Linked DNA regions of Homo sapiens. The protein of the gene in region 1 interacts with the protein of each later gene in a pairwise test. Each region holds a gene or a part of one and is shown on either strand. Other genes may lie near its edges.

Region 1 (7,715 bases):
GGCATGCGTCTGTAGTCCAGCTACTAGGGAGGCTGAGGTGGGAGGATCGCTTGAACCCAGGAGGTGAAGGCTGTAGTGAGCCAAGATGGGGGCACTGCACTCCAGCCTGGGCCACAGAGTGAGACCCTGTCTCAAAAAAAAAGAAAAAAACTAAGGCACACAAAGGGTCCTTGGTCAAGTTCACCCGGCTGGTGAACACTCAGGGAACATCTATTATCATAGCATTTGAAGTTCCCCCAGTGCCCCTCTGGTCCCTGCCATCATTTCCAGCCCCCTCAGCCACCCATGACACCAGCAGGTCTTTCTTCTTGTCTACATGACTTTGCGTATGCCATTCCATCCTTCTAGAAAGCTCTTCCCTTCAACTTGCTCTGACAAACTCCTGCTCATCCCTCAAAGCCCAAGCTCCCATGTCCCCTCTCTCCGCCCCAGCCCTGGAGGGATGGAGGAGGCATGTCACGTGGTAAGGGCTCCATCCGTGTTTGTATATATTACTAATACCTCCTCCGGAGAGAGCTGTGCCAGGCTGGGCACCCCTCATTCCACAGTGACCTGGGCGGCTTCCTGGAGGAGGCTGCAGCACGTACCTCATCAGCAGCCGTGGCAGGCGTGTGCAGCTGGTGCAGCCGGAGCCAGGTGGCCTTGTACTTGTCCAGTTTCTGGCCTTTGTACTTGACAGAGGCCCAGCCACAGCCCGACTTCTTGGCAGGGTTCACCAGCTTCTTGCAGTGGGTGGCCCAGGCGCTGGGTGAGTTGAAGGTCTGCCCGGTCTCCTGCCACATGATCCTTCCGTCTGGCTGCAGGTCGCCCAGGAACTTCTTCCCCTGCAGTGACAGTCAGCTGGCTGGGCCCAGGACCAACACCCACCATGCCCTCTCTCCCGGGGGGTCCTCCCCAGACCTACGCTCCCTCAGGCATGTCTTTACAGGGCTTCCAGGAACACCTCTCAGGCCGGCTGCAGGGCCTCCTCAGTGCCTGGGAGTCCACACCCACAAACCTGATCAGCCTGCACCAAGCTGCCTGGCAGATATCTGCACCCCGCCCACCATGACCAAGAAACCCCTAAGATCGGGGATAGGGTCTGTCTGTCTTGATCACTGCTGTGTCTCCAGGATGCAACACTCAGCAGTTGCTCCATTCAGAAACTCCCATTCAGAAGGGGAATAATGTGCTACCATTCACAAATCAAACAATAATGACAACAGTAATAGTAATAATACAGGGCTGGGTGCAGTGGTTCACGCCTGTAATCCCAGCACTTTGGGAGGCTGAGGCGGGCGGATCACCTGAGGTCAGGAGTTTGAGACCAGCCTGGCCAACATGGTGAAACCCCATCTCTACTAAAAATATAAAAATTAGCCAGGCGTGGTGGCGGGTGCCTGTAATCCCAGCTACTCAAGAGGCTAAGGCAGGAGAATTGCTTGAACCGGGAGGCAGAGGTTGCAGTGAGCCGAGATCATGCTACTGCATTCCAGCCTGGGCAACAGCGCGAGACTCTGTCTCAAAAAAAAAAAAAAAAAAAAAAAAAGGCCGGGCATGGTGGCTCACGCCTATAATCCCAGCACTTTGGGAGCTGAGGCAGGCGGACCACGAGGTCAGGAGTTCAAGACCAGCCTGGCCAATATAGTGAAACCCCGTCTCTACTAAAACTGCAAAAAAAAAAAATTAGCCAGGCGTGGTGGCGCATACCTGTAGTCCCAGCTACTCGGGAGGCTGAGGCAGAAAATCGCTTGAACCGGGAGGCAGAGGTTGCAGTGAGCCGAGATCGAGCAACTGCATTCCAGCCTGGGCAAAAAAGCGAGACTCTGTCTCAAAAAAAAAAAAAAAAAAAAAGTACTAATACCTACCACAGATAAAGTGCTTACCATGTGGCAGGCGCCTGCTGAGGGCTTTATTCATTTAACCATCCCCTAATTTTCCCATGGTGGGGAAATATTCCATTTCACGGCTGGGAAACCACAGGAAGGCCGGGGTGTTGCCCATCTGACCCTGCGCGGGTGGTGGCTCCTCTCTGAGCCTCAGCTTCTCCTTTGTGGGATGGGGTGTTTGGTAATCTACGTCCTCCCCACCAGAAGGACCCATCTGTGCCTCAGATTCCTCTCTCCACATGGGGCTTGTCCCGTAAAAAGAGCTCCGGGCCTCAGTGTCCCCTCCACGGGAGCTCCTCCTGCAGGAAAGGAGCTCTGGGCCTCAGTTTCCCCTCCCCACACTGGGGCTTGTCCTAAAGCAAGGGAGCTCTCCAGGCCTCAGTCTCCCTTCCTCACACCGGGGCTCTTCCTGCCGCCAAGGGAGCTCCGGGCCTCAGTCTCCCCTCTTCATGTCGGGGCTCTTCCTGCAGCCAAGAGAGCTCCGAGCCTCAGTTTCCCCTCCTCACACTGGAGCTCTTCCTGCAGTCAACGGAGCCCCGGGCCTCAGTTTCCCCTCGCCACACCGGGGCTCGTCTCTCAGCAAGGGAGCTCCGGGCCTCAGTGTCCCCTCCCTACACTGAAGCTTGTCCTGCAGCAAGGGAACTCCAGGCCTCAGTTTCCCCTTCCTGCCCGAGCCGCGATGGGACGAGGGAGGCGGGGTGCTCACCAGGTAGTAGATGGACAGCACCCCGGCGCCAGGCTCCAGCAGCGCGTCTTTGAGGAGCACCCGCAGTGTGACCGCGCGCCTGGTGAGCGCGCCCCCGGGCCCGCCGCAGCCCCCCGCCCCGGCCCCGCCGCCGCCGCCTCCTCCGCTGACGCTACTGCCGCCGCCGCCACTGCGTCCACCGCCCGCTCCCGCATTCGGCCGCTCAGGGTCCTCGGCCTCCGCTTCGTCCTCGTCCTCCTCCGGCGCCTCCTCGCCCGCACCGCCCGCCGGGGACAGCGGCTCCGGAGCTGCGGACAGCGAGAGGCTGCAGGGAGGCCGCTCGCCCCACGGCTCTGCAGCCCCGCGCCCCTGCAGCCCCGCGCCCCGCGCCTCCGCCCCGCTGGGCCCGCCGTACCTGCCATGGCCGCGCCTCCCCGCGCCCGGAGCTCTAGACTCCGGCTTCCCGGCACGTCACGCGGCCCCGCCCCGGGGAGGGGAGGGGCGCCCCAACCATTGGCCGTCGCCGGGGTCGGGGGAAGGGCTCGGCGCGCTGGGGTGGGCGGAGAAACTGAGGCCTCGGGGATGCCCACGCGGGAGAGAGATCGGGAACTCAGCCCTCTGGGAACATTCGGGAAACTGAGGCGTGACGGGGTGTTGACCGGGAGCTCATTGGTGCGAATGGGGAAACTGAGGCCTCGCTGTCCAGGGATAGAGGTTGCAAGGTGGAAGCCTGGGGCGGGTGCGCGAGTGGCTCAGCCTGCTGCAAGGAGAGGAGAAGGTGAGACCTGCGGTCACCGCACTTGAGGAACTCAGAGGCCTCGGCCTTTAGGACCAGGGGAGAAACTCAGGTCCAGGGGAACAATGCGGACTCCAATAGGGAACAGCCTCGCGCAGACACAGGTGGAGCCAAAGAGCCCAAGCCGGCCTCAGTCGCTAAAGAATTAACTCCCACCCTCCCGGGCGGCCCTCGACTGATTCCATGATTGGACCGTTGCGGAGCCCGCCAGCCAATGATAAGAGTCCCATTTATTTCACCCTCAACCAATCGATAGCAAGCTACTGGATTCCCGCACCAACCAATCCGTGTCAACTATCTGATTACACCAACTCGGATTTGACCAATGGGCAGACGTCCATGTAAACCAATCAGTAGAAACCCTTAGTTATGAGCGCAAACCATCAGAGGCAGGGACTGGACTCACCAGCCAATCAGCTCCGGGTATAAGGCCAGCCGAGTCCGGCCCTCCATACCCTTGGGCGGAGCAGGAGGCAGGGCCGGGCTCGTTGCGCGCCTGATCAGTGCAGCCCCGGCCTTTGTCCCCTACCCTGTTTCTGCAACTACATCCCCGACCCTGTCCTGGGACCTTCGTCCCGGAGCCCAGGCTCTGGGATTTCCCTCAGTCCCTGGCAGGGTTGAAAGTCCGGGATGGGGACTTCCTAAAGCTCCGGGACGCCGTGGGATGGGCTCAAGTGCGGGTGGCTTTGCCCAGACCGCAGTCGGGAAGTGGGAACTGGACAGTAGGGGTGCGGGGGAGGCTCTCCAGGGTGCTCGGGAATGTTCTCAGGAAGAAGACTTGACATAGAGCAAGAGCTGGGTACATGTGAACTATTGTTGTCCAGCCCAGGCACCCTTTAGGGGCCCCACCCTGACTGTCCAGCCAACAACGGGCATCCCCAAGGCCTGCAGACTCAGCATAGCCCAAACCGGCCTCAGTTTATTTCCCCAACTCCTTACGCACTTTCTCTTTGGCTTTTTTTCCGTCCCCTGCCTTCCAAAACCCTGAGCCACACCTCCAGCCTCTTGCACCCAAATCCTGGCCATCGCAGTGAGTCTCAGGCCTCCAAACTCATGCCCCACCCTGTCGGTCTTCCACCATTGCCCCAGAGGGCTCTTTCTAAAATGCACCTATTACCACCTCCCTCCCATATTATTATTTTGTTTTCTTTTCTTTTCTTTTTTCTTTTTTTTTTTTTTTTTTTTTTTTTTTTTTTGAGACGGAGTCTCGCTCTGTCACCCAGGCCGGAGTGTAGTGGCAAGATCTTGGCTCGCTACAACCTCTGCCTACCAGGTTCAAGCGATTCTCCTGCCTCAGCCTCCCAATTAGCTGGGACTGCAGATGCACATCACCACACCCAGCTAATTTTTGTATTTTTAGTAGAGAAGGGGTTTCACCATGTTTGCCAGGCTGGTCTCGAACTCCCAACCTCAGGTGATCCACCTGCCTCAGCCTCCCAAAGTGCTGGGATTACAGGTGTGAGCCACTGCGCCCAGCCTATTTTCTTTTCTTTTCGAGACAGGGCCTTGCTCTATCTCCCAGGCTGGAGTGCATTGGTGTAATCATGGCTCACTGCAGCCTTGGCCTCCTGGACTCAAATGATCCTCTTGCCTCAGCCTCCAGAGTAGCTGAGACAACAGGCGTGACCAGCATGCCTGGCTAATTTTTAATTTTCTTGTAAAAGAAGGGGATCTCACTATGTTGCCCATGCTGGTCTCCAAGTCCTGGCCTTAAGCAATCTTCCCACTTGGGCTCCCAAAGTGTTTGGATTACAGGCGTGAGCCACCGCACCCTGCCCTCCTCTCATGCTGTAAATCCTTCTGTCGCTCCACATTGCCTTAGACAAATACAATAAAAACTAACCACCCTGGCTGGGCACAGTGGCTCACGCCTGTAATCCCAGCACTTTGGGATCACTTGAGGTCAGAAGCTGAAGACCAGCCTGACCAACATGGTGAAACCCCATCTCTAATAAAAACAAAAAAATTAGCCGGGGGTGGTGGCAGGCACCTGTAATCCCAGCTACTCCAGAGGCTGAGGCAGGAAAATCGCTTGAACCCGGGAGGCGGAGGTTGCAGTGAGCCGAAATCATGCCACTGCACTCCAGCCTGGGCAAAAGGAGCAAAACCCTGTCTGAAAAAACAAACAAACAAAAAAACGAAACAAAAATCAACTCTCTGACCTTACTTAGTATAGCTGATACTATCAACTTTATCAGACAGTTCAGTGGATGAACACATTGCCACAGTCCCACGGCCTTTCTGTGATTTCTAGAACACCTGTTCTGCTATGTATACAAAGTCTAGCCCTGGTAACTACTAAGGAAATTGAATTTGTAATTTAAAAACTCCCAAAAAAGCAATCTCCAGACCCAGATGGTTTCACTAAGGAATTCTGCCAAAGGTTCAAAGAAGAATTAACACCAATTTCACATCATCTCTTCCAGAAAATTGAAGGGGACACTTCCCTGTTCATTTTATGGAACTATGACCCTGATACCAAAACCAGATAAAGACGGTACAAAGAAAGCAAGCTACACCCCATATCCCTCATGAAGACGTGCAAAAATCCTTAACAAAATATTACAAAGTAGAATTTAACAATATATAAAGTGAATTATACACCATGACAAGTGGGGTTTACTCCAGGGACCCAAGACTGATTCAGTATTCAAAATTAATCAATTGTCCACCATATTAAACAGGCTGTGGTAGGCAGAATAATGGTCTCTTAAAGATATCCACGCCCTAATTCCCAGAATCTGTGAATACGTTAGGATACGTGGCAAAGGGATTTGAAGATTAAAGATAGACGCCAGGCACAGTGGCACACACCTGTAACCCCAGCACTTTGGGAGGCCTAGACTGGAGGATCACTTGCACCCAGGAGTTCAAGACTAGCCTGAGGGCCGGGCACGGTGGCTTATGCCTGTAATCCCAGCACTTTGGGAGGTCGAGGCAGGTGGATCACAAGGTCAGGAGATTAAGACCATCCTGGCTAACACAGTGAAACTCCATCTCTACTAAAATAAAAATACAAACAAATTAGCTGGGCATGGTGGCACGTGCCTATAATCCCAGCTACTCGGGAGGCTGAGGCAGGAGAATTGCTTGAACCTGGGAGGCAGAGGTTGCAGTAAGCCGAGATCGCTCCACTGCACTCCAGCCTGGGTGACAGAGTAAGACTCTGTCTCAAAAAAAAAAAAAAAAAAAGACCAGCCTGGGCAACATAGCAAGAACCTGTCTCTAGTAAGTGTAAAAATTAGCTGGGCGTGGTGGCAGGCACCTGTAATCCCAGCTACTTGGGAGGCTGAGCCAGGCGAATGGCATGAACCTGGGAGGCGGAGCTTGCAGTGAGCCGAGATCACGCCACTGCACTCCAGCCTGGGCTACAGAGCGAGAGTCTGTCTCAAAAAAAAGAAAAAAAAAAATTAGCCAGGTGTGGTGGCATGCAACTGTAGTACCACCTACTCTGGAGGCTGAGGCTGGAGGATCACTTGAGCCTGTAAGGTCGAGGCTACAGTGAGTCATGATCGCCCCACTGTACTCCAGCCTAGGCAACATAGTGAGAACTCATCCTTAAAAAAGGAAAATAAATTAGCTGGGTGTGGTGGTGCCCACCTATAGTCCCAGCTCTTCGGGTGGCTGAGGCAGGAGGACCGCTTGAGATTGGGAGGTCAGGGCTGCAGTGAACTATGATCGTGCCACTGCACTCCAGCATCGACAACAGAATGAGACACCGTCTAAAAAAGAAAAATTGCAGATGAAATTAAAGTTGCTAGTCAGCTGACTTTAAAATAGGGAGAGTAGCGTGGATTATCCAGGTGGGCCCAATGTAATCATTAGGGTCCATCAAAGTAAGAGAAAGGGCCAGGTGTGGTGGCTCATGCCTGTAATCTCAGCACTTTGGGAGGCTGAGGCGGGCAGAAAACTTGGGGTCAGGAGTTCGAGACCAGCCTGGGCCAACATGGGGAAACCTCGTCTCTACTACAAATACAAAAATTAGCCAGGCGTGGTGGCGGTCACCTGCAATCCACGCTAGTCAGGAGACTGAGCTTGGACTCAGTCTCTGAACCCGGGAGGCAGCGCAGTCTCTTGAACCCGGGAGGCAGAGGTCGCAGTGAGCCAAGATCATACCACTTTACTCCAGCCTGGGCAACAGAGTGAAACTCTGTCTCAAAATAGGAAAAATAGATAAATAAATAAATAAAGAGACAGACCATGTCTCTGTCTTTGCAGATATAGCGAAGATTATTCTCCCATTCAAGTAGACTTATACATTCTCTCTGTTCTCAGTTCCACACCGGAGAGGCGGGGATTTCCCTAGGATCACTGGACCTGCTGGGATCAGCCTCTGCCCAGCCCTGGCAGGGGAGGGAGTTGACGG
Region 2 (7,021 bases), on another chromosome or scaffold:
GACCATGAACTCTCAACTCTATTCCACTGGGTTTATTTCTGGACTCTCAATTCTATGCCACTGATCTACACATTTATCCTTATACCAGTACCACACTGTCTTTTTATTTTTATTTTTTTGAAATGGAATCTCGCTCTGTCCCCCAGGCTGGAGTGCAATAGCACGATCTCGACTCACTGCAACCTCCACCTCCTGGGTTCAAGGGATTCTTGTGCCTCAGCCCTCCCAAGCAGCTTGGACTACAAGTGTGCACCCCCACGCCCGGTTAATTTTTGTATTTTTGGTAGAGACAAGATTTCGCCATGTTGCCCAGGCTGGTCTCGAACTCCTGTCCTCAAGTGATCTGCCTGCCTTGGCCTCCCAAAGTGTTGGGATTATAGGCATAAGCCACGGTGCCTGGTGACGTTGTCTTGATTAGTTGTTTTATAGTATGTCTTGAAATCACAAAGCGTGAGTCTTTCTGCTTTGTTCTTTTTCAAGATTTAGCTATTGTGGGTCCCTTGCGATTCCATAGGAATTTATGAATTGACTTGTCAATTTCTTTTTTTTTTTTGAGATGGAGTTTCGCTCTTGTTGCCCAAGCTGGAGTGCAGTGGCGCGTGATCTCAGCTCACCGCAAGCTCCGCCTCCCAGGTTCAAGCGATTCCCTGCCTCAGCCTCCCGAGTACCTGGGATTACAGGTATGTGCCACCACACCCGGCTAATTTTGTAGTTTTAGTAGAGACAGGGTTTCTCCATGTTGGCCAGGCTGGTCTTGAACTCCTGACCTCAGGTGATCCGCCTGCCTCGGCCTCCCAAAGTGCTGGGATTACAGGCATGAGCCACTACGCCTGGAGACTTGTCAATTTCTACAATGAAATAAACTGGGATTCTGACAGGGATTATGTCAAACGTGTAGATCAATTTCCAAAATACTGCCAATTTGACAACGTTATGTCTTATGATCCATGAACAAGAGCTATTTTCTATTTATTTATTTATTTATATCTTCTTTCTTTTAAAAATGTTTTACAGGCCAGGCACGGTGGCTCACACCTGTAATCCCAGCACTTTGAGGGGCCAACATGGGAGGTTGCTTGAGGTCAGGTTCAAGACCAGCCTGGGTAACACAGGGAGACTCTGTCTCTACAAGAAATTAAAAAACAAACAAACAAAAAAAAAAAGCTAGGGATGATCGCGCATGCCTGTGGTCTGAGCTGCTTGGGAGGCTGATATAGGAGGATCACTTAAGCCTGGAAGGTCTAGGCTGCACTGAGATATGATTGCACCACTGCACTTGTTCTCACTTCAGTGCAAGTCCGAGAAAAAAAAAAATCAATTAATTAAATATTTTAAAAGGCCAGGCTGGGCGCACTAGCTCACGCCTGTAATCCCAGGACTTTCAGAGGCTGAGGCGGGTGGATCACCTGAGGTCAGGAGTTCGAGACCAGCCTGGCCAACATGGTGAAACCCCCTCTATACTAAAAATACAAAAATTAGCCAGGCATGGTGGTGCACACCTGTAGCTCCAGCTACTCCGGAGGCTGAGGCAGGAGAATCGCTTTAACCTGGGAGGCAGAGGTTGCAGTGAGCCGAGATCGCGCCACCGCATTCCAGCCTGGACGACAGAGTGAGACTCCGTTTCAAAAAAAATTAATTTAAAAAACAAAACCAAAAATGTTTTACAGCTTTTAGAGTATAAGTTTTATACTTTCTTTTACTAAACTGTCAGAGGATGGAAAAAAAGATACCTCTTTTGTTATAAGTATTTTTATTTTTTAGGTTATTGTAAATGGAATTTTCTTAATTTCCTTTTCAGATTGTTCATTCCAAGTGGATACATTTACAACTAAGTTTTGTGTAATGATCTTGTATCCTATAACCTTACTAAACTAATAATTTATTAGTTCCAATACTTTGGTAGTGGATTCCTCAGGGTCTATATGCAAGATCATGTCATCTGCAGAGATGATCTTACTTGTTCCCTTCCAACATAGATGTATTTTATTGCATTTTCTTGCCTAATTGCCCTGGCTAGAACCTCCAGTACAATGCTGAATAGCAGTAGTGAAAGTAGACTTATCTCTCTTTTTCCTAATCTTAAGGATAAGCATACAGTCTTTCACTATTTTGTTTGTTTGTTTGTTTGTTTTGAGCTCTGTCGCCCAGCCTATTGTGTGCAGTAGTGCTATCTCAGCTCACTGCAACCTCTGCCTCCCAGGTTCAAGCAATCCTCCCACCTCAGCCTCCCAAGTAGCTACAATTATAGGTATGCACCACCACACCTGGCTAATTTTTTTTTGTATTTGTAGTAGAGACAGGGTTTCACCATGTTGGCCAGGCTGTTCTTGAACTCCTGACCTCAAGTGATCCCTCCAACCTTGGCCTCCTAAAGTGTTAGGATTACAGGCGTGAGCCACTGTGCCTGGCCTCAGTCTCACTATTATGAAGTTAGCTGTGGGTTTTTCATAACTGCTGTGTATCAGGTTGAGGAACTGCTCTTCTCTTCTTAGTTTATTTAGTGTTTTTATCATGAAAAACATGCTGAATTTTGTCAAATGCTTTTTCTGTGTCTACTGAGATGACAAGGTGATTTTTGTTTTTTATTCTATTGATATAATGCATTACATTATTTACACTAATTCATTTTTGGATGTTAAACCAACCTTGCACTCCTGGAATAAATCCTGCTTGTTTATGGTATATAATTATTTTTATATGTTACTGGATTCAGTTTGCTAGTATTTTTGTTGAGGATTTTTGCTTCCACATTTGTAAGATATATTTGTCTATGGTTTTCTTTTCTTGTAATGTCTTTTCCTGGTTTTTGGCAACAGGGTAATACCAGTCTCATAAAATTCGTTTGTAAGTATTTTCTCCTCTTTTTCATTTTTGAAGACTTTGTGAAGAACTGTATTAATTTTTCTTGAAATGTTTGATAGAATTCAGTGGTGAAGTTATCAGGACCTCTAGTAGGTACAGGCCTGGGCTTTGCTTTGCTTTTCTTTCTTCTTTTTTTTTTTTTTTGAGATGGAGTCTCACTTTGTCACCCAGGCTGGAGTGCAGTGGCGCAATCTCAGCTCACTGCAACCTCCAACTTCCCGGGTTCAAGCGATTCTCCTGCCTCAGCCTCTCGAGTAGCTGGGACTACAGGCGCACTCCACCATGCTCGGCTAATTTTTGTATTTTTAGTAGAGATGGGGTTTCACCATATTAGACAGGCTGGTCTTGAACTCCTGACCTCGTGATCTGCCCACCTTGGCTTCCCAAAGTGCTGGGATTACAGGCATGAGCCACTGCACCCAGCCTCTTTTCTTTTTTTTAAGAGACAGGGTCTCACTCTGTCACCCTGGCTGAAGCACTGTGGCACAATCATAGCTCACTGCCTCCTCAACCTCCTGGGATCAAGTGATCCTCACACCTTAACCTCCTGAGTAGCTGGGACTCCAGGCTCACACCACCACGCCTAGCTGAGTTTAGATATAGTATGTATATTTTAGAGTTGGGGTCTCTCTATGTTGCCCAGGTTGGTCTCAAGCTCCTGGCCTCAAAGGATCCTCCTGCCTTGACCTCCCAAAGTGCTGAGATTACAGGCAACAGCCACTGTGCCCAGGTCTCTCTCTCTCTCTCTCTCTCTAATTATTTATTTATTTTTTAAGGGTATACTATCCTACCCAAACTTATATTTTTAAATTCCATTAGACTCATATTACCAAGCATATAAACAAATCACACATAACACGAAATAGAAAAAAACATTAAGACTTCCTTTGCTTTTGGAAAACAACTGAGAAACAACAAAATTCTTTTCAGAAATACAGAAAAAAATTGTTTTTATAGTGTAGCTAATATGCCCTCCTTAGACATTAAGACACTTTTCTGTTTGTACCCTTAATGCAGCCATATTTTTACTCTTTATAAAAATCAAGGCTCTCAATAAAAACAGTATCTCACTCACTAATCATTAAATTGCATCACTGAAAATGTAGTTATACACACCAATTTCTAACTTCTTAGAATACTCTGCACAATCAATTATAATCACTGAAACGAATAACTGCTCAAAAACGCAGAATGGCTTCAACTACACTATGATTTGGTAGTCAATATTCCTGTTTTCCAGTAAAAAGGAGATTTCATAAACAAACATTGGGCTCCTTAAGGTTTCATCAATCAAGAGAATCTTTCTGAGCAGCTTCTGAGCAAATGTTTCTTAACAGGCTGATCACAGATCTAGGGTCTTCACTCCTCACCATAGCACTGCCAGACACAATCATGTTAGCTTCGCCTCTGCACACCTATGGACAGTGTCAGGATCTATTCCACCAGCGACCTCTATAGCCAAAGATGGGAACTGGATCCTCAACCAGTGAACCTTTAACATCATATCTTCCATGAATTTATGCCCTCCAAACCCTGGTTCCACTGTCATAACCAAGGTCATACCTAGTTGATTAGCCCATGGTGCCAAATACTGAACTGAGGTTCCTGGTTTTATGGCAAGGCCAACCTTCATCCCATTCTCCTGAATGTCTTTAATCAAAGCCCCTGGGTTCTCAGTTTCCTCGAGATGAAAGATGTACTGATTGGCTCCTCTTATAGCCATTGGCTTTACCCACTGTTCTGGCTTGGACACCATCACATGCATGTTCATCCATTACATTCCGGTGGAGATAATCGACCCCAGAGTCTAGCATCCAGAGGCACTGGGCCCCTAAATTGGCCAGGTAGCATTGAGGATGGACAGGCCAATCTTGCAGCCCGATGCCATACTACTGGTTCCCAAGGGCAAGTTACCCCACGAGTCCCCTCAATTACTAATTTAATATCTTTACTTGTTATAGGTCTATTCAGATAGTGTCTCTTCTTGGGTCAATTTTGGTGGTTTATATCTTTCTAGGAGTTTGTCCATTTTATTGAAGTTATCTAATTACTTGGCATTCAACTGCCATTTTACTTTTTTTTGTATGTGTTTCACATCTTTTTTTTTTTTTTCAGGGCAGGGATGGAGTCTCGCTCTGTCACCCAGGTTGGAGGGCAGTGGCACGATCTCTGCTCACTACAACCTCCGCCTCCCGGGTTCAAGCAATTCTCCCGCCTCAACCTCCCAAGTAGCTGGGGTTACAGGCACCCGCCATCATGCCCAACTAAATTTTTGTATTTTTGTAGAGATGGGGTTTCACCATGTTGGCCAGGCTGGTCTTGAACTCCTGACCTCAGGTGATCCACCCACCTCAGCCTCCCAGAGTACTCCCAAAGCCACTGTGCGGTGGCTGAGGCAGGAGAATCGCTTGAACCAGGGAGGCAGAGGTTGCAGTGAGCCGAGATTGCCCCACTGCACTCCAGCCTAGGCAACAGAGCGAGACTCTGTCTCAAAAAGAAAAAAAAAATTAACGAATTCTTTCTTCACCCAGTTCAAATCTGTTATTGAGTCCTGAGTCCCTCTAGTTAATTTTTAAATTTGTTATTGTACTTTTTTTTTTTTTTTTTTTTTTTTTGAGACAGAGTCTTGCTCTGTTGCCCAGGCTGGTGTGCAGTGGCTCGATCTTGGCTCACTGCAACCTCCGCCTCCCAGGTTCAAGGAATTCTCCTGCCTCAGCCTCCCGCGTAGCTGGGACTACAGGTGCCGGCCACCACGCCTGGCTAATTTTTGTATTTTTAGCAGAGACGGGGTTTTACCATGTTGGTCAGGCTGGTCTCGAACTCCCGACCTCAGGTGATCCGCCCGCCTCAGCCTCCCAAAGTGCTGGGATTACAGGTGTGAGCCACCGCGCCCAGCTGTTATTGTACTTTCAACTCCAGAATTTTCATTTGATTCTTTTTTTATAATTTCTATATCTTTATGGATATTCTTTAATTGATGCAACAGTGTCATACCATCCTTTACTTCTTTGTCATCATATTTTCCTTTAGTATTGTGAATATATATAGTACTGTGAATATATATATAGGCCAGTTTGAAGCCTTTTTCATTAATTTGGCCCCTTGTCTCACAGGCAGTTGCTGCTGCCAGCTTTTTTCCAGTGTATGTGTCATATTTTCCTGTTTCTTTGTACGTCTCACAATTTCTTGTTGGAAACTGGACATTTTAGATAATATACTGTAGCAACTCTGGGGATTGGTACCCCCTCTCCAGGGCCAATTGTTATTTATTTGTTTAGCGACTGGCTGGATTATTTGAGTGAAATCCATTTCCCCTGAAAAGTGTTAAGGCCTATGATATTGCTCTTCAGGGAGGTGCAGCTTTGGGTATGCTCACAGTCACCCTGGGATGACAGTGGTTTTGGTAGGGTTCTCTTCTATTCTCTCCTTGACCACACCCAGCTATGAAGCTCCACTAATTGTGGCATATTGTTCTATTATTTTCAACAACACACTGAGGCATAACTTGCTCTTACTCTACAAACTGATACAATCAAATTGTGGCTGTTTGGAGGAAAGCATTTTTTTCCACCTCTGCCACATACCTTACTTTTCAAATTGTTTTTTATTGATTCATAATAGTTGTACACATGTTGGGGGTACCTGTAGTATTTCGATACATTAATATACAATGTATAATGATACAACCAGGACAGGAGGGACATCCACCACCTCAGAGGTCTGTGGTCAATGTTTTGTTTTGTGACAGGACAGAGCTTCACTGTCACCCAGGCTGGAGTGCAGTGGCGTGATCTTGGCTCACTGCAACTTCCACCTCCCAGTTCACGTGATTTTCCTGCTTCAGCCTCCCAAGTAGCTGGGATTACAAGTGTATGCCCCCATGCCCAGCTAATTTTTGTATTTTTAGTAGAGATGGGGTTCACCATATTGGTCAAGCTGGTCTCAAACTCCCGACCTCAGATGATCTGCCTGCCTCAGCCTCCCAAAGTGCTGGGATTACAGGCGTGAGCCACCATGCTGCGGTCAATGTTTGATCCTTCTTCTGATCCTAGAATGGCTTCTTCCAGCTGTCTTATTCCCCAATTCTTTCCAGCAAACCAGGAGGCCTACAGTCTAGGCTGCATCTCCATTAAATCCGCAGATCTCCCAGTTGCCTCTT
Region 3 (7,543 bases), on another chromosome or scaffold:
CACTCCTGAGCCAGCGAGACCACAAACCCACCAGAAGGAAGAAACTCCGAACACATCTGAACATCAGAAGGAACAAACTCCGGACACGCCACCTTTAAGAACTGTAACACTCACCGCGAGGGTCCACGGCTTCATTCTTGAAGTCAGTGAGACCAAGAACCCACCAATTCCGGACACACCAGCTACTAGGGAGGCTGAGGTGAGGGGATCACCTGAATCCAGGAAGTCGAGGGTGCAGTGAGCCGAGATCATGCCGTTACACTCCAGCCTGAGTGACAGAGTGAGATCTTGTGTCAAAAAAACAGAACAAAATAAAACAAGAACGTTGAATAGGCTGTGTGTTAATTCTGAGATGGAGTCCAGACTTAAGAATGATCCTGAGGCTTAGACCCATATCCAAGAGGATGATTCCAGCCTGGCACTTATAGGTTCTTCAGGCACTTCAGATGCACCCTGTCCTGAATTAAGCCCTTTGTCCTTGAACCTGCTTTCCTTGGTAAACAGCACCAAGGGGGCTAGAAACCTGGGGGCTGCCCTTACCTTCCCTCTCTCACCATGCACCTCTAATGGGTGGCTGGACTTGTGGTTGCATTTCCGTGATCTCCCAGCTTTCTTCCAGTGATGGCCTTAGGTGGGCTCTTATCCTGTCTCCCAAATGGCCTCTCTGCCTTGAGTCTCACCCCATCTGCTCTCAGTCCACCCACTGAGCTATTCCAGAGACCATTCTGACTCCCTGTGGACACCCCTCTGGTGGCTTCTCCTCTCTGTCAGTTAGAAATTGCTTTTGACTGCATGTAACAAATGTGGTTACGCTATTTAACCAAATAAAGGTTTATTTTTCTCGTGATGAAAAGTACACAGATAAGCAGCCTACTTCCATCGATAACCATTGAGGGTTTCTTATGACTCTTACAGCAATGAAATGTGTATTTACAGTATAAAGATATACAATTTTAAGGTTTTAATATAATTGGGCCTAAGCACAGTATTTTTTGTTTTAGTTTTCAACTGCCCAGGTGATTCTATTGTGCAGCCAGGGTTGATAAACACTGCATCTAGGCCCAGTGCCTTTGATTTGCAGCTGAGGTCTAGAGAGAATTATTGAAACTGCAGTCCCAGCTACTTGGGAGGCTGAGGTTGGAGAATTGCCTAAGCCCAGCGGGGTGAGGCTGTAGTGAGTCAAGACTGCACCACCGCACTCCAGCCCGGGCGACAGAGCAACACTCCATCTAAAAAAAAAAAAATTTCTGGTCTACCTTTTTGCCCACCTTTTAACCACAGAGGTCCCCAAACATGAATTTTCACTCTCAGGAAGGCTGAAATGACACATTACAAGCGGTTTAGTCATCTGCACGTGCCGCCATCTGATTTAAGGCATCTATTCCTCCTCACCATTCCTGACAAAGTTGAACTGTCTACATGTGCCACATTCTCCTCTTTCTCTAATTCCTTCCCTCCTTCCCTCCTCCCTTTCTTCCCTCCCTCCCTCCTTCCTTCTTCTTTCTCTTTCTTTTTCTTTCTCTCTTTCTCTTTCTTTCTCTTTCTCTCTCACTCTCTTTTCTTCTTTCTGACAGGGTTTGCCTGTTCTGCTTCTTTAAACCCTGGGGTTCAAGTGCAAAGGTCCCTCTCATCTGATTTCCCTATTTTATTTTATTTAAGTTAGATACTCCACGATGATGATGATGATTATTGTTGAGACAGGATTTCATTCTGTTGCCCAGGCTGGAGTGCAATGGTGCGATCACAACTCACTGCAGCCTCAACCTCCTGGGCCCACGCGATCCTCCTACCTCAGCCTCCCAAGTAGCTTGGACTACAGGGGTGTACCACCATGCCCGGCTAATTACATGTGCCAGATTCAACCCACGTTCCAGGGTTCCAAACAACCAAGGCTCTATCATCCTGTCTTAACAAATATACCTTCATAAAGACCTGGAAGGCAGGTTGAAATGTGGAATTCTTGGACTTCTTTCAGTTCTACGTAGAAGGGTAGCAGTGGAGAGCTGGCTGCCTGCCCGCCCCTGGCCTTTCCTCCTTTCCCCACCCCTGCTCCTTGTGGCACTGGGCAGGGCCTACGTTCAAGGCTAGCAGTGTACTCAACAAGGGACAGTCCCTGTGTGGCCTGTTCAGGATCCTATACACAGGCTCAGGGCTCTTTGGGCAGGAAATTCCAGGATCCGGGTACTCAAGTGGTGTTCTAAACAGTGGTTCTTGGCCGGGTGTGGTGGCTCACACCTGTAATCCCAGCACTTTGGGAGGCCGAGGCTGGCAGATCACTTGAGGTCAGGAGTTCGAGACCAGCCTGGCCAACATGGTGAAACCCCATCTCTACTAAAAATACAAAAACTTAGCCAGGCATGGTGTGCACGCCTGTAGTCCCAGCTACTCGGGAGGCTGAGGCAGGAGAATCACTTGAACCCAGCAGGCGGAGGTTGCAGTGAGCTGAGATTGCACCACTGCACTCCAGCCTGGTGACAGAGTGAGACTCCATATCAAAATAAATACATAAATAAATAAAAACAGTGATTCTTAACTGGGAGTGATTTGGCAACGTCTGGAATTATTTTTGGTTATCCCAGCCTGGCAGGGAGGGACAGGGTATTACTGGCATCTAGTGAGTAGGGGCTAGGGATTCTACTGAACATCCTACAGTGTACAGGACAGCCTCCACAGCAAAGAACTGTCTGGCCCAAAATGTCCATAGTGCCCACATTCGATGCCCTGCATTAGGAAGATATAAATACTCTTAAATATCACAGAGTTAAATTCCTTACCCCTGTTCTAGCAGAGATGATATTCTTGCGGGGGGAGCATCTTCTTGGCTTCAACACATTCTTTTCTCCATGGGAGATGATGCCAGAAGAGGGACAGAACAGGGCCCAGTAAAGCATGGGGCCTGGGGCCAGGGACCCCCTTGTTCAGGTGTGACGACCATCCTACGAAGGCACCACCCAGGCATCATTAGACCGTCTCAAAAGAAGAGTAATTCACTGTCCCAAAGCAGCTCTCTCGTGTCTGTGGGCGGATCCCTTGGCAAGTTTACAATGAACTGAAATCTGCCGAACTTCCTGGAACCCAAAGAAACTTTAGCCTTGGGCAAAGGCCCTTTGGCCAGCATTTGCACTGTTTATGCAACCGTTTAGAATATACGAATTATCTGGAGACTACTACCAAATACAACAGGCAAAACTGCAAATATGTATACTTCCTAGAGGATGATAAAAAAATGTGAATTGTATTTCTCTGATAGAGGATGCATTAGAGTCTGAGGGTCTAAATAGCGTAAATAATAAATAAGTAAATAAATCGATAGTAGTGTACTCCAAACGAGGCTGGAATAGCTTCTATTGTTGTTTCACACTGGACTTCAATTAAGTCTCAGTATTTTGCCATACTCAATATTAAGTACTAGGCTGGACGTGGTGGCTCATGTCTGTAATCCCAGCACTTTGGGAGGCCGAGGTGGGTAGATGGCTGGCTTGAGCTCAGGAGTTTGAAACCAGCCTGGGCAACATGGTAAAACCCCATCTGTACCCAAAATACAAAAATCAGCCAGGTGTGGTGGCACATGCCTGTGGTCCCAGGTACTTGGGAGGCTGAGGCAGGAGGATGGCTTGAACCCAGGAGGTGGAGGCTGCAGTGAGCTATGATGGCGCCACTGCACTCCAGCCTGGGTGACAGAGCGAGACCCTGTCTCAAAAATCAAACAAACAACCCCCTCGCCCCGGACAAAAGTAGTTTGCACTATTTTCTCATTTCACAATATGTTTTTGAAATATTTCCCTTGAAAGGTAAGTCATATTTATCATTCCTGTTGTATGGAGGCATCATAAATTATTTCACCATTCTACCCTCCTTGAGTGTTGTGGCCTTTAGGCCAGACAAAAACGCAGGTGATGCCTAGAAGCCAACTAGTTGCCGTTTGGTTATCTGTAGGGTTGTGGCCTTGCCAAACAGGAAAAATATAAAAAGAATACCGAATTCTGCCAACCAAATAAGAAACTCTATACTAAGGACTAAGAAAATTGCAGGGGAAGAAAAGGTAAGTCCCGGGATTGAGGTGTAGCGACTTTCTATACCCTCAGAAAACTAAAAAACAAGACAAAAAAATGAAAACTACAAAAGCATCCATCTTGGGGCGTCCCAATTGCTGAGTAACAAATGAGACGCTGTGGCCAAACTCAGTCATAACTAATGACATTTCTAGACAAAGTGACTTCAGATTTTCAAAGCGTACCCTGTTTACATCATTTTGCCAATTTCGCGTACTGCAACCGGCGGGCCACGCCCCCGTGAAAAGAAGGTTGTTTTCTCCACATTTCGGGGTTCTGGACGTTTCCCGGCTGCGGGGCGGGGGGAGTCTCCGGCGCACGCGGCCCCTTGGCCCCGCCCCCAGTCATTCCCGGCCACTCGCGACCCGAGGCTGCCGCAGGGGGCGGGCTGAGCGCGTGCGAGGCGATTGGTTTGGGGCCAGAGTGGGCGAGGCGCGGAGGTCTGGCCTATAAAGTAGTCGCGGAGACGGGGTGCTGGTTTGCGTCGTAGTCTCCTGCAGCGTCTGGGGTTTCCGTTGCAGTCCTCGGAACCAGGACCTCGGCGTGGCCTAGCGAGTTATGGCGACGAAGGCCGTGTGCGTGCTGAAGGGCGACGGCCCAGTGCAGGGCATCATCAATTTCGAGCAGAAGGCAAGGGCTGGGACGGAGGCTTGTTTGCGAGGCCGCTCCCACCCGCTCGTCCCCCCGCGCACCTTTGCTAGGAGCGGGTCGCCCGCCAGGCCTCGGGGCCGCCCTGGTCCAGCGCCCGGTCCCGGCCCGTGCCGCCCGGTCGGTGCCTTCGCCCCCAGCGGTGCGGTGCCCAAGTGCTGAGTCACCGGGCGGGCCCGGGCGCGGGGCGTGGGACCGAGGCCGCCGCGGGGCTGGGCCTGCGCGTGGCGGGAGCGCGGGGAGGGATTGCCGCGGGCCGGGGAGGGGCGGGGGCGGGCGTGCTGCCCTCTGTGGTCCTTGGGCCGCCGCCGCGGGTCTGTCGTGGTGCCTGGAGCGGCTGTGCTCGTCCCTTGCTTGGCCGTGTTCTCGTTCCTGAGGGTCCCGCGGACACCGAGTGGCGCAGTGCCAGGCCCAGCCCGGGGATGGCGACTGCGCCTGGGCCCGCCTGGTGTCTTCGCATCCCTCTCCGCTTTCCGGCTTCAGCGCTCTAGGTCAGGGAGTCTTCGCTTTTGTACAGCTCTAAGGCTAGGAATGGTTTTTATATTTTTAAAAGGCTTTGGAAAACAAAAATACGCAACAGAGACCGTTTGTGTGACACTTTGCAGGGAAGTTTGCTGGCCTCTGTTCTAGGTCATGATTGGGCTGCAAGGGCAGAGAAGGTAGCCTTGAACAGAGGTCCTTTTCCTCCTCCTAAGCTCCGGGAGCCAGAGGTTTAACTGACCCTTTTGGGGATTTTTGAGGGCAGTGATCTTAACTTTGGGTGCACAGTTAGCTTATTTGAAGATCTTACTAAAAATACACCAGAGCCCAACCTCCGACCAATTACATCAAAACCTGTCCTAGTGCAGGGTGAGTATTGCTGTTTTTTGAAAGTTTCCAAAAGTGATTTTGATGTGCACCTACGATTGAGAACTGTCGTTTGAGGACAGTGGGTGGAGTTTCGTATTTGGAAATTAGAAGACCTGGAGTTTCCATTACACCGAATTGGCACTTAATAACTGTTGTCGGAGCATTTCTTAAGCCACATTTTCGTAAAGTGGCTTTAAAATTGCTCTGCCAGTAGGCAGGTTGCTAAGATGGTCAGAGACAAACTTCTGAACGACTCTTGTAAAATATACAGAAATATTTTCAGAACTTTTATCAGTAAAATTACAAAACGTGTTGCAAGGAAGGTGCTTGTGATAACACTGTCCCCAGAACCTTAGTGAAGTTACCAACTGGTGGAAAATTTTCTCTTGCACTCGGCTTAAAAATCATGAGGGAATATTTACTATACGAATGAGATTCAGTCTTTAAAGGGGTTTACAGAAACGTGAGAGGACAGGAACAGTTAGTCTGTGTAAATGTCTGAAATATATGTGAGGGAGATAATGAGTTTAGCCTTTTTCTTTAATAGGTCTCCAGATTTTCTGGAAAAGGTTCTTTGGCATTTGACTCCATTTTGCTGTTTCATTTGTCAGACTTCTTTTTGTCCCTCTTTACTTCTCCCCACATAATTCACCAGTACTAGTGTTTTGTTTTTCAGACCAAGTCTCGCTCTGTCGCCCAGGCTGGAGTGCAGTGGCGCGATCTCAGCTCACTGCAACCTCCGCCTCCCAGGTTCAAGCAATTCTCCTGCCTCAGCCTCCCGGGTAGCTGGGACTACAGGCGCGCGCCGCCACGCCTGGCTAATTTTTTATATTTTAGTAGAGACGGCGTTTCACCATGTTGGCCAGGATGGTCTCGATCTGTTGACGTCGTGATCCACCCGCCTCGGCCTCCCAAAGTGCTGGGATTACAGGCGTGAGCCACCCCGCCCGGCCACCAGTGCTATTCTTAAGACGCCTCTGAGGAATCCCTTCTCCCTGGCCATTGAGAATCCATGCATGAACCCAGGTTTTCCACCTTCCCTGAGCAGCTTGCATAGTTCCTTCTTTTAAGCGCCTGACTTCGTTTTGTTTGGTGCCCGTTGTACCTGAGAATGAGCCTTGGATAGTGGAGCATTCCAGCTTTCCAGATATGCAGAGATAATACATTGGCTATCAGCTACTTGGCTTGGCCTATTCCGTGTTTAAAATCTTGGACTCTTTGCTAGTTTTTACAGATCAGAATTTTTCACGTATTAATCCAGTTTTCCTAGCTTCTCTTGAAGAATTTTTGGAGATCTCTTCATACTGAGCCTTCATTAGCCCAGGACAGTACTGCTGTAGCAGTTCATATATTTTTTCGCTTCCCAGGCCTGTGTTATTCACTTAAGTTCATAGCCTGGTCCCTGCAGGGTTGTACCCGAGCACAGCTACTTAGATGTCCTGAATGTATTACCGGTTAAATGGAGGTTTCAAAGAACCTGCTGTTTTTGGCCCTGTGCTCTTGATAACAGAGTGTTTGAGGGACAACTTTCACATTTGAGTTTTTCCAAAATTAAAGGTTGTAGAAGAGTCACAGTATCTATTGTCAAAAAGAAAAGAATTTAAAAAGGCAGCAATTGCCAGGATACTTCATTTGAGCAATGATATTTTCCAGTGGAAAGTCACATCTTAAGGGTTAATGCCCCTTAACTGTTGGCCGTATTTGAAAACAAACCAAGCTAAAAACAAGAGACACTGACATGTTGTATGACGGTGTGGTGTGGATGTTGTGTTTATTTTAGTCCTGAGATCTAGTTGTAACTTCCTTGATTTCTGTATGTAGCCACGGAGCACCATTACCTGTCACCATTACCTGAATGGCTATACTGCTTGCTTTCATTTTGGTAGAGTGGAAAGGTTACCTAGGTTTCAGTGCTTGAAAAGATTTCAGAAAGCAGTAGTACGTCTGGTTAGACTAGAATCAGTCCTCTCCTGGGGGCAGTGGAATATAATATT
Region 4 (7,021 bases), on another chromosome or scaffold:
CCACCACGCCTCCCACCCACGTCTTTTCACCAAGCTAGCAGACCCTCGGGGGTGGAAGCGTACGGGAGGATGTTAGAAACGCTTGGACACCAAAGGCCCACCAGAACCTGAGCTCCGTGAAGTCCAGACGCGGGAGAGAAGCCCCAGCTGCCTGTACGTCTGAGGTTGCTGGTCCTGGAATTCCCTTGGAATTCCCTTGTGGCCCCGACACCCTGAGTACCAGCTCTCCCAGGGTCCCCTTGGAGAGAACCACCCAGGCCTCCCTGCAAGCAAACGTCTCGGTGCGTGTGGCCTTTGTGCCAGTCAGCAGGCTTCTCCTGCCCTGTGGAACTGGGACCTCAGAATCTCAGAAGGGCCCGCATGGCTGCCATGGCCAGTGTCAGATGCAGCCCAGCAGAGAGGCCCTGGAACTCAGAGGACTCCCAAAGTCCGTGAGCACAGTGTCCTCAACAAAACCCCCCCTCACCACACCTTCCTCAACAAACCCCTCACGCCAACTGGCTCTGGAGGACTGTGTCCAATTGCGAGCTGCCTTGGATTTAGGTTATGGTCCTGAATGCTGCTGCCACCACCTCCCTGAAGTGGCTCACAAGTCCTCAGCCTCCGCCGGAGCCCCAAGTGCCAGACTCCCCCTTCAGCCGCACAGCCTGGGCACTCGGACCAAGCTGCCACCTTCCCTGTGCTTGCCGGGGCCAGGTAGGACACGTCTCACAACAGAGCCTTTTCCGGGGGCGCCCTTCTGCAGTGATTCTTGCAGTCCTGCACTCTGCTGTGTTCTGCTCACACCAGGCAGGGGGAGAGGGAGCGTGGCCCCTCTGGGAAGCTCCCAGGACGGCAGGGGTGGGTGCTGCCCTACAGATACAGTACCTGCTGCACAGGGAATGGACGCCTCCTGGACGGTGGCCCCAGCCCAGGAATGGCTGGGACACCCACTCCAGTCTTGCCCACAGTCTGCTTCCAGAGGACACTTGCCCCTGCCTCTCCCCACCCCCACCACGCCCTGCATCTCGCAGCCACCTGGAAGGAGATGTAGACCCCACTGTGGTAAGGAGCTGTTCAGAGCCCCCGGAGCCCTCCACTTCCTACCACGCAGACATCCTGCTGCTGTGCGACACAGATGGACCAGGGCTTGTCCTGAAGGTCCCAGGATGCACATTCCTCAGGGATGGCTACTCTCCTCCCCCTCCCTGTTAACAGACTGGTTTTCCATGGACTCCTTTAAGCCCCCAAGTCTGGCCTCTGGTCAAATTTCAAAGACATGATGGGGTGGTCTGTTAAGACTGAGTAGCTCATGTGGCACCAGGTGAGGGCTGCTCAGGCCTGCATTAAGGAGGGGAGCCCGAACAACGGGCCTCCCCCTTCCCCCCACCCACAACGAAGCAGCTGCTGCTGGCTCCTCTCCCAGAGACTGGAAGAGAATTGATGAGAACACCGGGGACCCAGCAGTTCCACTCCCAGGCCTAAATCTAAGAGGGCAAAGTCAAGCCTCCACTCAAAACCTTGTGTGTGCACACACTCCCGGCAGCAGGATTCACAACAGCCACGGAGTGGAAGCAGAGCCAGCTGTCCAGTGGAGGATGAACACACAGCGGGGAAGACATGGGCCGTGCAACCGCGGCTGCCACAGAGAAAGCGCAGGAGCAGTGCATGCTGCGTGAGAAGCTGGGCACCAGGCAGAAAGCAGAGTCCGGGAGCTGGGGGAGGAGGGGACAGCAAGTGCCTGCTCAATGGCCCTGAGGTTTAAGGTGATGGAGCTGATCTAGATAGAATTGGGGGTGATGGCTGTATAACTGGGAATACACTAAAATCCCTGACTTGTACACTGTGGCCACCTGAAGTGAACAGTACACGCTTTCTGTCTCAGTAAAGCTACGCAAAGAACAGCAGACATCCCGCATGAAGTCAGCTCTCCAGGGCCGCACCATGGGAGCTATGGGCTGGCAGTGGCCGGCTCTGCTCTTGACACACAGGAAGGATGCAAACTCAGAGCCCCAGTGGGGTCACGGCCTTGCCCGGAGAACTCCCTCTGGGGATGGCAGCCTGCCGTCCCCTTGCCTAGCCTGGATGCCACATCCCGCGGCAGCGAAGCAGCCTCCTGCTTGACCGTCTGGCCCGGGGACCCTTTTGTCTCCTGGGTCAGTTTCATTCTTTCCCCAGGCTGTGCTCCTGATGAAGCAGCATCGTAGCTGATGTTGAAGGGCCTCACGCCAGCACCTAGGCTGGTCTTCCCTGGGTGCCTGCTTGAGCACGTGGCCCAAAACAGCCGTTGCATGGGGCACTCAGAACCCACCACACCCTCGCCCCTTCCCAGCCCGCCACCCTGTGGCTGAGGCCCTGTGCCTTGAGCAAGCTGCTGCCCCTCCTCCTCCTGGTCCAGTTCTGCCCACACCTGGGTGCCCACCTCCCCTCCCTGTGGTCTCCAGGAGCTGCCCCCAACATGCCCTGGGCAGCAGTGCTCATCGTAGCCCCGTCTGTGGCCTGGACAGGCTCTGACCACTCCTGCGTTGGCACAGCTTCCTCGGGAGGCTCCTGCCAACACCACTCGGCACGGTGGGCTCAACACGGCAGCGGCAACGGGTGGGAGTACTTGCCTCTGCCTGGCCCGAATGGCGGTTTTCCATTTGGATTTGGGGATGAGCAGCCAATGAGCCTATCTCATTCCCGTTAACGTGAGAGAAACATCCAGACGCTATCCTCAGGTCTCACACACCCCCGCCGTGCTCTGCACCACACCTGGCAGGGGCACCCCCGACTGTATGCTGGGCATCAGCTCCCAGGCCCGAGCGCCTCACCTCACACTGGGGATTGGAGCCCTCAGGCCCTAGAGACACTGGCTTGAGAAACTTTTGAGATGGAGTCTCGCTCTGTTGCCCAGGCTGGAGTGCAGTGGCATGATCTCAGTTCACAGCAGCCTCTGCCTCCTGCGGGTTCTGGAAATTCTTGTGCCTCAGCCTCCTGAGTAGCTGGAATTACAGGCGTGTGCCACCATGCCCGGCTAATTTTTGTATTTTTAAGTGGAGACAGGATTTCACCCTGGTGGCCAGGCTGGTCTCGAACTGATAACCTCAGGTGATCCACCTGCCTCGGCCTCTCAAAGTGCTGGGATTATAGGTGTGAGCCACCGTGCCTGGCCAAGAAACTTTTTAAAGAAAAAGTTTGCTCAACAGATAAGCTGAACCCCAGTCAGCAAAGGGCTTTGTAAACTGTCCTTGGGATGCAGCTCAGAGAGGAGGGTCCTCAGAGGGTGAGGTGCTGCCTAGGGGGCACCTGCAGCCACAGCAGCACCAGGCCCACACCCTCCGCAACCTCCCAGCCTATCAGGGACCTGAGGCGCAGATGGAAGTGGAGTTGTGGACACAGCAAGGGCCTCCACTCAGCCAGAGAGAAAGCAAGCTGCCCTGAGCCCAGCTTTCCGTGGCATCGTGGCCTCAGGCAGGTGTATTGTGAGTCTTGGGCCCCATGACAACTTGGTTGGGCCGGGCCAGCCTGCAGGGGGCAGAGAACAGCCAAGGGCCCAGCCCTGCCCACTGATGCCACCCCTGGTGCAAAGTTCCCCCACCCCAGCGAGGAGGAAGGGCCGGATGCTAGTCAGCCTGTAGTGGGGTAGCAGGACAGAGTGGGGTGGTCAGTGGCACCTCTTCTGCCACAGTCCAGCCCGTGCTCTGGGCCGGGAAGCAGGTACGGACGCTGTGGGCGAGGGCGTGGCTGCCCGCAGGAGGGAAGCTTCTGTCTCCCCAGCCATCCTCCAACCCTGGACCCCACCATCAGGTCATATCCATCATTTCACCAAGAGGGAAACAGCCAGGGCCAGAGTTCCTTCACCAGTAGAGCGGTAGGGAGAACCTGTGCTTCCATCCTAAGGGACTTTACCCTGAATTGCCAGGGCCCTACACGGGCCAGAATCCCAGGCCCATCTGTGGCCAGTGGGACCCTATGTGGGCTAGAATCCCAGGCCCATCTGTGGCCAGTGGGACCCAGGGCCTCTGGCGTGTGAGCTCTGCAGCATGTTGGGAATGGTGGAGGGGGATGGCCAGAAGACAGCACCCCAGACCCTGCTGGTGGCCCAGGGGAGACACTGCAGAGAGCTGTACCCCTGTGAGGGGGTGGCACTGAAGGCACTCAGCCCAGCCTGGCACCCGACTGCCCTGACACCTGTCCCCTGACATGGATGCCGGCTGGCACGGGCCCCTCCTGCTTCCCACCAACAGGGCCTGGAACAGTGCTTAGGATTGACCGCGCCTCTACACACCATCTCCCCTCACAGACCTGGCAGAAAACACAGCTCCAAAGCTGTGGGGAGGGAGACGGGGAGGGAGACAGGGAGGGAAACCTTGTTTGCACCAGCACCAGGTACCCCAGGGTGGCCACTTCCAAGGAGCTCAGCTGGCATCCTCCAGGGTGGGTGGGACATGATGCTGCAGCTGACGGGACCTCCAGATTAGCCCCAGCTGGAGACCGGGCAGGACCAGGGCAGCATGTAGCACCCTGCGTGTCGCTAACTCATCCCAGAGGCCAGCTTGGCACTTGTCCCCAGCTTGTGCATTGACCCCCAGGGAGGTTCATTTAAAAGCACCCAAAAGTGTCAGTGCATTAAGCAGGCTAAAAATAGAACCCGTCCCTACACCTCCCACCCTGCCCACTGCTTGGCTGTTCCTAAAATAACCGCGCGCGCACAGCCACGCACACATCTCCGGCTGCGATGGGGAAAATCAAGTTGTAAGTGTGAGCTGGTATTTTGGTCCCAGCAGGAGCATAGGGGCTGTTCTCTGTGGGCTTTGGGGAACGGGGAGGCATCTTAGGAACCCAACAGGACAGACAGACGTCCGCAGTGGTTCCAAGGAGAGGCAGAAACAGGCATTGCCGCCCGGCAGGACGTGCCCCTTCAAAGGGGTGTCACGCGGTGACCCCTCTGGGGGTGGGGCTGGCAGGAGGAGAAAACCACAGCTCCCCTAGGTCAGGGGCAGGGACAGACACCGACCCCTGCCGCAGCGTCGACAATAAACCTACCAATGGTCCCCCCTGCCCGGCCCACACGCCCTGAGCGCCCCCTGCGGACACCCCCCTGCGTCCTCACACCCGAGGGGCAGACTGGCTTGCAGCACTTCTGTTCAGCACCACGCACTGCCTGGCAGCCACGAGCGAGCAGAGCCCTGCTGGGGTGAGGGCCTGGCCGTGCGCAGATCCTATGTAGCCACCGTCCCACAGCCCTTCATTCCCAAAGCCCTTCATTCCTGCAGCACTGGTCAAGGGAGCAGGGTGGGATTTGCAGAGTGAAGGTCCCTTCAAGGGGAGGCCAGCCCTGTGTGAGGCACCAGGACCCCCAGCCTCGCACACCGAGTCTAGCCTGGGACCCCCAGCCTCGCGCCGAGTCTAGCCCAGGGGGACGCTGTTCTTCCCTCCAAGCTGCCTGCCCTGGAGGAACGAATTTGGGGGGGGGGTGCTGGGTGAGGCTGACGGTGAGTTGCACACAGCGGGCCTCACGTGGGAGCCGGCTCCAACCCCAACACCCCCCATGGGTGAGAGAAACCTGGACTGGCAGCTCCCCCCAACCCCAGACCTGACTCCCAGCCCCAGGGCCAGCCTTGCCCCCAGCTGTTTCGCCTCTGGGTTCCTATCCAGGACACAGGACACTCAAGCGGTCATCTCACGGCCCAAGGCTACTGACCAGGGGCACAGACTCTTGGAGCAGCTGGGGTTGAGCACGTTGCGGGGAGCGCAGGGATCCCATGCTGCCTGGAAACCAGGAGTTTCGTGTGCTTTCTGGACAACCTGGGGGCAGCCTCTCACGGAAAGAGGTATGACACCTGCCCCACCTGGCTTCCTAGGGGAGGGTCCCAGCGACCTGAGGGCCACCACTCCCGGCTGTACCCCCACCCTACTCCACCCCTGGAGAGGAACAGGGGAGCAGTGACCTTGCTGGAAACCCTCAGGAAACACCAGGTCAGCAGAGAGGTGGATGTTGCCTCCACTGGGACCAGCCTGGTGGCCGCCCACTCACCGTACTGGACTTGAGCTCATCCCCATTCTCCTCGTCGGACTCTAGAGCGACAGGCAAGGATTTCTGGGGCGGGGAGAAGGTCAAGTCCCAACGCAGCAACCGGGGCTCGGCCCCGCCCAGCCGCAGGCTCGCCAGTTTCTGCACGGCGGGCTCCGCGGAGGAGGCCGGCCTGAAGTTCTCCTTGTTCTGGGCCTTGGACCGCAGTCTCTGCACCCCGAAGCCCCGGTCCTCGGGGCGGTGGTCGTCCCCCAAGCCCCGGCAGGCGCCGCCCTTGCTGTAGCGTCTTTTCTGGGGATGCGTCTCCATCCTCAGCAAGGGTTTCATCTCCATCCGGTAGTTGCTCAGCTTCTCCTCCTGCAGCTCCAGCAGCCTGGAGCCTCCGGGGCTGTGGTTGCTGGCCCGGTGGTGGGAAGTCCACGTGAACACGGGGGGTGACTCCGTCCGCCGCTCCCGCGGCTTGGGGTTCCCGGGCTGCTTGCGGCCCGAACCTCGGGTGCGGAAGTCATCCACGAGCAGGCCGCCGCGCAGGGCACCGCTGCGGACACCCCTGGAGCCCCCGGCCTGCTCCTCGCCCCAGCTGCTGCGGGCGCAGTCCCCGGCCCGGCCCTCCAGGAGCATCTGGATGTCCCCGCCCCGCTCCTCGTCCACCGACACCTGCCTCGAGAAGTGGGCGACCTTGTTCCTGGCGGCGGGCGCGGGCGGCGGGGTGGCCGCGGGGCTGGTGGGGAAGCTCTGCAGGGGGCTGTCGTCGGGGGTCAGGTCGGAGGGAGTGGTGCCCTTGCGGTACAGCTCGGGGCTCTCCTGCTGCAGGGGTGTCCCGGTGGACAGCACCTCGATGTCGTCACAGGAGGTCTGACGCTTCGGCCTCTGGTACTCCAGCCCTGTATGGGGACACAAGACGACGCCAGACGGCGTTACCCAGCACATTCCACAGCGAGGCCGCGGTCCCCGGGCCAGGGCGCCAGAGGGAACCTCAGGGCAGCAGAGGCGCTTCCCACTCACCGAAAGGCTGCAGGCAAGGGA

The links.
Region 2: the proteins of MPND (region 1) and NF2 interact in binary tests that used the Homo sapiens proteins (3 or more experiments, as listed by UniProt).
Region 3: the proteins of MPND (region 1) and SOD1 interact in binary tests that used the Homo sapiens proteins (3 or more experiments, as listed by UniProt).
Region 4: the proteins of MPND (region 1) and JPH3 interact in binary tests that used the Homo sapiens proteins (3 or more experiments, as listed by UniProt).

Annotation. Positions count from the first base shown.
Region 1 is NC_000019.10:4,338,854-4,346,568, reverse strand, and holds the start of MPND (MPN domain-containing protein), read right to left. Parts: upstream 3,008-7,715; 5' UTR 2,976-3,007; coding exon 2,969-2,975; intron 2,862-2,968; coding exon 2,575-2,861; intron 825-2,574; coding exon 588-824; intron 1-587. UniProt on the Homo sapiens protein: Probable protease. Acts as a sensor of N(6)-methyladenosine methylation on DNA (m6A): recognizes and binds m6A DNA, leading to its degradation. Binds only double strand DNA (dsDNA) in a sequence-independent manner.
Region 2 is NC_000022.11:29,606,629-29,613,649, reverse strand, and holds part of NF2 (merlin), read right to left. Parts: intron 1-7,021. UniProt on the Homo sapiens protein: Probable regulator of the Hippo/SWH (Sav/Wts/Hpo) signaling pathway, a signaling pathway that plays a pivotal role in tumor suppression by restricting proliferation and promoting apoptosis.
Region 3 is NC_000021.9:31,655,160-31,662,702, forward strand, and holds the start of SOD1 (superoxide dismutase [Cu-Zn]), read left to right. Parts: upstream 1-4,533; 5' UTR 4,534-4,610; coding exon 4,611-4,682; exon of another isoform or gene 4,683-4,865; intron 4,866-7,543. UniProt on the Homo sapiens protein: Destroys radicals which are normally produced within the cells and which are toxic to biological systems.
Region 4 is NC_000016.10:87,689,504-87,696,524, reverse strand, and holds part of JPH3 (junctophilin-3), read right to left. Parts: intron 6,880-7,021; coding exon 5,999-6,879; intron 1,889-5,998; exon of another isoform or gene 384-1,888; intron 1-383. UniProt on the Homo sapiens protein: Junctophilins contribute to the formation of junctional membrane complexes (JMCs) which link the plasma membrane with the endoplasmic or sarcoplasmic reticulum in excitable cells.